2 linked regions of the Homo sapiens genome follow. Changing the gene in region 1 together with any one later gene gives a genetic interaction. Each region holds a gene or a part of one and is shown on either strand. Other genes may lie near its edges.

Evidence for each region.
Region 2: changes in SDHAF4 (region 1) and ACACA together harm fitness more than expected from each alone (negative genetic interaction), as found in Homo sapiens cells (one large-scale study listed by BioGRID).

Annotation. Positions count from the first base shown.
Region 1 is NC_000006.12:70,569,930-70,573,429, forward strand, and holds part of SDHAF4 (succinate dehydrogenase assembly factor 4, mitochondrial precursor), read left to right. Parts: intron 1-3,500. UniProt on the Homo sapiens protein: Plays an essential role in the assembly of succinate dehydrogenase (SDH), an enzyme complex (also referred to as respiratory complex II) that is a component of both the tricarboxylic acid (TCA) cycle and the mitochondrial electron transport chain, and which couples the oxidation of succinate to fumarate with the reduction of ubiquinone (coenzyme Q) to ubiquinol.
Region 2 is NC_000017.11:37,400,337-37,403,836, forward strand, and holds part of ACACA (acetyl-CoA carboxylase 1), read right to left. Parts: intron 1-3,500. UniProt on the Homo sapiens protein: Cytosolic enzyme that catalyzes the carboxylation of acetyl-CoA to malonyl-CoA, the first and rate-limiting step of de novo fatty acid biosynthesis.

The DNA.
Region 1 (3,500 bases):
AGGCAGGAAACCAGTTTTCATTTTTTTTCATATCAAACACTTGTCCCAGGTTCATGTATTTATAGGACCTTTCCCCTACTGATATAATGCGAGCCATCATAAATCAAGTTTACTTATACATATAGGCATACGTTTATTTCTTGGCTCTTTTCTCAGTCCCATTGACCTATTTGTCTATTCCTGTGCTGATACTACCTGTCTTGATAATTATAGCCATAACTTTGTTATAAATCTTACTATTTTCTGACTGTTGTTTATGTACAGAAACATGATGCTTAATGATTTTGTATCTAAATTACCTTATTAATTTAAATAATTTACTTTGCAGATTTTGGGGACTTTGCTGCATAGCCATTCATATCATCTGCAAATGGTGACAGTCTAGTTTCTCCCTGTCTAATCCTTTTTTTTGAGAAAGGGTCTTGCTCTGTCACCCAGGCTGGAGTGCAGTGGCGCAATCTCTGCTCACTGCAACCTCCACCTCCCGAAATCAAGTGATTCTCCTGCCTCAGCCTCCCGAGTAGCTGGGATTACTGGTGTGCACCACCATGCCCGGCTAATTTTTATATTTTTTTTAGAGATGGGGTTTTGCCATGTTAGCCAAGTGATCCTTGAGAGCCTCGGCCTCTCAAAGTCCTGGGATTACAGGCGAGAGCCACCGTGCCCCCCACCACCCTCCCTGTCTAATCCTTATATCTTTTTTCTTTCTTTGCTCAGATTTCCAGCACCATGTTGACTAGAAGTGTTGACAGCAAGCATACTTATCTTGTTTATGATTATAAAGGGAATGCATTTCTTTTTATCATTAAGGTGTGATATTGCAGTCATTTAGATAAAATTGCTACATTTTTTTTTAAGTCACCATCTCCTAATAACTTCTAAGGCATGTTTTATAAACGAATCCTCAGGGAAGAGTTCTAGCTATCTCCCAAATAATTCTGTTCTTTTAAACCAAAAAATCTCCGTCTTATGTTTTTGTTAAAACTCTTTATTTTGGATTTACATTTACTTACAGGATTTAATGATCCATAACTGTGGGTCTTCAGAGTCCAAGCCTTTGTGAAATAAAATTTCATGGAACATGAAAAAAAAAATATGGTATTAGCTACAGTTATACCCTTTTTGGGTTAAGGAAGTCTGTTTCTATGTAGAGTTTTGGGATTTTGTTTTGTTTTTGTTTATGTATTTGTATTTGTTTTTTAATGATGAATAAATCTTGAAGTTTACTTAATTGATTTTTCTTTGTCTTACTGAGGTGTTCTTCGTCTTACTGAGGTGTTTATCATTTTCTGCTTTAATCTGTTGAGGTGGTAAATTACAGATTTTTCTGATAGTGAATCACTTGCATTCCTAGAAAATATTCCAAAGGATCATAGTGATTATATTTTTAAATATAATGTTGTATTTGTTGTGCTTATATTTTGTTTAGAAATTGGCCTGTAATTTTCTTCTATTATACACTGAAACCCCTGCCTCCCGGGTTCAAGTTATTCTTCTGCCTCAGCCTCCGGAGTAGCTGGGATTACAGGCACACGCCACCACTCCCAGCTAATTTTTGTATTTTTAGTAGAGACAGGGTTTCACCATATTGGCCAGGCTGATCTCAAACTTCTGACCTCGTGATATGCCTGCCTTGGCCTCCCAAAGTGCTGGCATTACAGGTGTGAGCCACCGCGCCCAGCCTTCCCTGGTTTTAATATTAAGGTTATTCTAGCCTCATATAATGTACTGGGGATTCTACTCACTCTTTTCCCTTCTTTGTTAGATTTTGTTTAAGATTGGAATTATTTGTTCCTTGAGGGTTTGTTACAACTCACCTGCAAAACTGTCTAGACCTGTTCTTCTCTTCGAGGGAAGACTTTAAATTACTTGTTTAACTTCTATAATGGTTATTATTATATTTATCAGGTTTCCTCTTAAGTCAGTTTTGGTAAGTTAACTTTTTCTGGAAAGGTTTCCATTTTGTATTGTTTCAATATATAGGCATAAAGTTTCTGGTATTTTTTTAAAATTTTCTGCTCTCCATATAATATGTACTCTCTTTTTCTCATATTATCTATTTTGCTTTCTCTTGTTTTTTTATAGTAGCCTTACCAAAGCTTTTACAACACTTTCAGTCTTTTTTTGTCTTTTTTTTTTTTTTTTTTTTTTTTTTTTGAGACAAAGTCTTGCTCTGTCGCCCAGGCTGGAGCGCAGTGGTGCGATCTTGGCTCACTGCAACCTCCACCTCCCGGGTTCTAGTGATTCTCCTGCCTCAGCCTCATAGCTGGAATTACAGGCGTGCACCACCATGTCTGGCTAATTTTTGTGTTTTTAGTAGAGACGAGGTTTCACCATGTTGGCCAGGCTGGAACACTTTCAGTCTTTTCAGAGCACCAACCTTTGTTTATTGTTGATCTTCTTTGTTATAAGTTATGCAAAGGATATTTATTGTACAACATGGTGACTATAGTTAATATCAGTGTATTGTATACTTGAAAATTGCTGAAAGTAGATTTTAAATTTTCTCATCACAAATAATAGATATGTGAGTTAAGGCATATATTAGCTTGATTTAGCTATTTCACAATATATACATATTTGAAAACATGCTGTACACCATAAATGTATATAATATTTATCAATTAAAAAATGAAGACTATATTGAAAGTTATTTTTACATTGTAAATTATGTTTTTATTCATTTTTTTCTTATTATCTTATTTTTCCATTTTCCGTGGTTTTTTTTTTAAACATGCAAATGGTGCATCTCACATAAACAGCATATGGCTTGTTTCCGGTTTGTTTGTATGGGGGTTTTTGTTGTTTTGCAGACTAATAGTCTCTTTACCCTTATAATTACTGATAAAATTACATTCCTCTGTTCAGACTCGTGGGTCTGTGTGTGTGTGCACATGCATGCACAGGTATGTGTGTTTTGGGTGGGATTTTGATTTTGATAAAACCTATAAAGATTTTGATTTTGATAAACATAAAGACTTTTGTATAGTCAGTATGTTAAAGCATTTTCTCTGTATTCTTATCTCCCACTTTACTTCTGGGAACACTTTTTTCTTTTTTCTGAGAGACAGAGTCTTGTCCTGTCACCAGGATAGAGAGCAGTAGTGCAGTCATAGCTCATTACACCCTTGATCTCCAGGACACAAGCCATACTCCCGCCTCAGCCTTCTGCCAAGTAGCTAAGACTATAGGCACCACCGTCATGCAGTCATGCCCAGCTAATCTTTCATTATTTTTATTCATTTGTCTCTATGCGTTTTTCTGTATAATTTCTTTGCAACTTTATTCCAGATTATAAATTCTCTTTTCAATTGTATTTATTCTGCTATTTGGCCTTTTTTTTTTTTTTTTTGAGACGGAATCTCACTCTGTCGCCCAGGCTGGAGTGCAGTGGCACAGTCTTGGCTCACTGCAAACTCTGCCTCCTGGGTTCAAGTGATTCTCCTGCCTCAGCCTCCTGAGTAGCTGGGATTACAGGCACCCTCCACCACACCCAGCTA
Region 2 (3,500 bases), on another chromosome or scaffold:
CTCAAACCCCTGACCTCAGATGACCCACCTGCCTCAGCCTCCCAAAGTGCTGGGATTACAGGTGTGAGCCACAGTGCCTGGCCTCAAGTATATATTTTTAACTATAGTCACCATATAGTATAATAGATCTCCTGCACTTATTCCTGCTGTCTAACTGAAATTTTGTATCCTTTGGCCAAAATCTTCCAATTCTTTCTCTCTCATCCCCTGGTAACCACCATTCTGCTACTTCTACAAGCTTGACTTTTTTAGATGCCACACATAAGTGAGATTAAGCAGTATTTGTTTTTCTGTGCCTGGCTTATTTCACTTAGCATAATGTCCTCCAGGTCCATCTATGTTGCTGCAAATGACAGGATTTCCTTATTTTTTAAGGCTGAACAGTATTCCATTGTGTGTGTGTCTGTGTGTGTGTGTGTGTGTGTATCTATATCTCACATTTTCTTTATTCATTCATCCATTGGCATACATGTAGGCTGTTTCCATGTCTTGGCTATGGTGAATAATGCTGCAATGGATATGGGAGTACAGATACCTTGACATGCAGATATCATTTCCTTTGGATATATACCCAGAAGTGGATTATTGGATCATATGGTAGTTCCATTCAAAAATTTTTAAGGAACCTCCATACTATTTTCCAAAATGGCTGTACTAATTTACATTCCCACTGACAGTGTACAGGGTTTTTCTCCACATCCTTGCCAATGCTTATCTCGCTTTTTGATAATAATCATTCTGACAGGTGTGAGGTGATATCTCATGGTAGTTTTAATTCACATTTCCCTGATGATTAGTGATGTTGAACATTTTTTTCACATACCAGTTAGCTATTTGCATGTCTTTTTCTTTTGTTTTTCTTTTTTTTTTTTTTTTGAGACAGAGTCTTGCTGTTGCCCAGGCTGGAGGGCAATGGTGTGATCTTGGCTCACTGCAACCTCCGCCTCCTGGGTTCAAGTGATTCTCCTGCCTCAGCCTCCTGAGTAGCTGGGAATACAAGCGCCCGCCACCACGCCCAGCTAATTTTTGTTTTTTTAGTAGAGACAGGGTTTCACCAGGTTGGCCCGGCTGGTCTCGAACTCCTGACCTCAGGTGATCCACCCGCCTCGGCCTCCCATGCTACTTGCATGTCTTCTTTTGAGCAATGTCTTTTCAGGCCCTTGTCCACTTATCTGATGTAGGGGTCGTGAATATTTTCTCCCATTCCGTAGGTTGTCTCTTTACCTTTTTTTTTTTTTTTCCAGACGAGGTCTCACTCTGTTGCCCAGGCTGGAGTAAAGTGGCACAATCACGGTCACTACAGCCTCAACTGTCTGAGCTCAAGTGATTCTCCTACCTCAGCCTCCCAAGTAGCTGGGACCACAGGCGTGTGCTATCATGCCCAGCTAATTTTTTGATTTTTTTGTAGAGTTGAACTCTCACTAAGTCACCCAGTTTAGTCTCGAACTCCTGAGCCCAAGCAATCTTCCCACCTAGGACTGTCAAAGTGTTGGGATTACAGGCATGAGCCACCGCACCAGGCCAGAAACTCTACGTTTGATTCTAACCACAGCAGCTTAGCAGCTGAGGACAAACTGTTGGGATATTTTGGTCTCAGTCAATGGCAGCCAGGTTACCAACCCTGACAAGATACAAGTTTTCTTCGTTGGGTTCCTGGTACAAAAGTCAACCTTTTCAGTTACTTATGAATGAAAGGGCATGAAGATTGTGCTATTAGTTTATCCTGAAGGTCAATCTTCAAAAATACTGGTTCAACATGGATTTGGATATTATTAATATAAATTTATGGCTTAAAGAGGACAAAAGGTGTTTTTTTGGGTTCCTTTACAGAGATATTTAGTGAGGGAACAAGGCACTTAGTCATCTTTGCTATGACAGGTTAAATACAAGGTGTACTGGGAACATGTAAGAGGGTGACTTAACTCAGCCATTGGGGGGTCAGGAGAAGTGTTCCTAAGGAAGTGATGTCTAAGTGAGGTAGGCAGTACCTTGGCAAAAAAAACCTTGAAGTTAAGAGTGCATATGAGAAATGAAGGTATGTCCACCTGGCTGGCAAATGGAGTCTAAGATAGGGCAGTGATGATAAAGATATAGGAAGATGCTAGATCTGGAAGGGCCTTCTAAAAAGAATGACAATATAAATTTATTGTACAAATGGAGACTTTACTGAGAGTGAAACCAGGCAATATTAATACTTAGGTAGGGACAACAGATATAAACCAGGCTATTCTCAGCAAATCAGAAATTATGGTCACCCTACTTGTAAGTCACATTCAGGTGCTTAGACTTTCAGTGAAAGCATAGAGTATGTATCTTCTACATTTTGCCTAAGTGACTTCATTCTTTTTTTTTTTGAGACAGAGTCTCGCTCTGTTGCCCAGGCTGGAGTACAGCGGCACGATCTCAGCTCACTGCAAGCTCCACCTCCCAGGTTCACGCCATTCTTCTTCCTCAGCCTCCTGAGTAGCTGGGACTACAGGCGCCCACCACCACGCCCGGCTAATTTTTTGTATTTTTAGTTGAGATGGGGTTTCACCATGTTAGCCAGGATGGTCTCGATCTCCTGACCTCGTGATCCGCCCGCCTCAGCCTCCCAAAGTGCTGGGATTACAGGCGTGAGCCACTGCACCCAGCCAGTGACTTCATTTTTACTTTTGCCTTTACTTACTCATTTCACAAGTATTTGAGGATACACTTCAGAGCACTGAGGTTACAAAGACAACAGTGTCTGTCCTCAAGGTCTGTCTAGGTAAGACACACAGCCAAATAAACAATTCTAATACAGTTATACAGTTTTAGTTCTGACACCTCCAATGAGCTGTAGACTTGTATTTGTCATTTCCAGTCAGAATGCAAAACACAGATCCAAAACAGAACTTTCAATTTCTCCTCCAAATCTATTCTTCCTTCAGCTGGTCGTGTAAGTGATGCCACTATCACATCCACTTAAGACAAAAACCCAGAGGAGTACTGCCTTAATCAGTAATCAGTGTTACCCTTCTTCTCACTGTGCATGTTAATTTTGCCACATCTTTTTTTTTTTTTTTTTTTTTGGTACAGTGTCTCACTCTGTCACCTAGGCTGGAGTGCAGTGGTGTGATACTGGGTCAATGCAGCCTCAACCCTCTGGGCTGAAGTGATCCTCTCACCTCAGCCTCCTAAGTAGCTGGGACTACAGGCATGCGCCACTACACCTGGCTAATTTTTGCAATTTTTGTAGAGACGAAGTTTCACCATGTTGCCCAGTTCTCATGCCTCCTTGAACTCCTGAACTCAAGTGATCTGCCTACCTTGGCTTCCCAAAATGCAGGGATCCCAGGTGTGAGGCACCGTGTCCTGCCCTCTCCACATCTTTCTTAAGCACACTGACTAAATTGGTCTAAGTAGAGCCTAACATCAACTGAAGGGAGAGGGTAATTTCCAGGTAGTTGAATGCTATGATTTTTGTTTTTTTGTTTTTGAGACAGACTCTTGCTCTGTTGAACAGGCTGGAGGGCAGT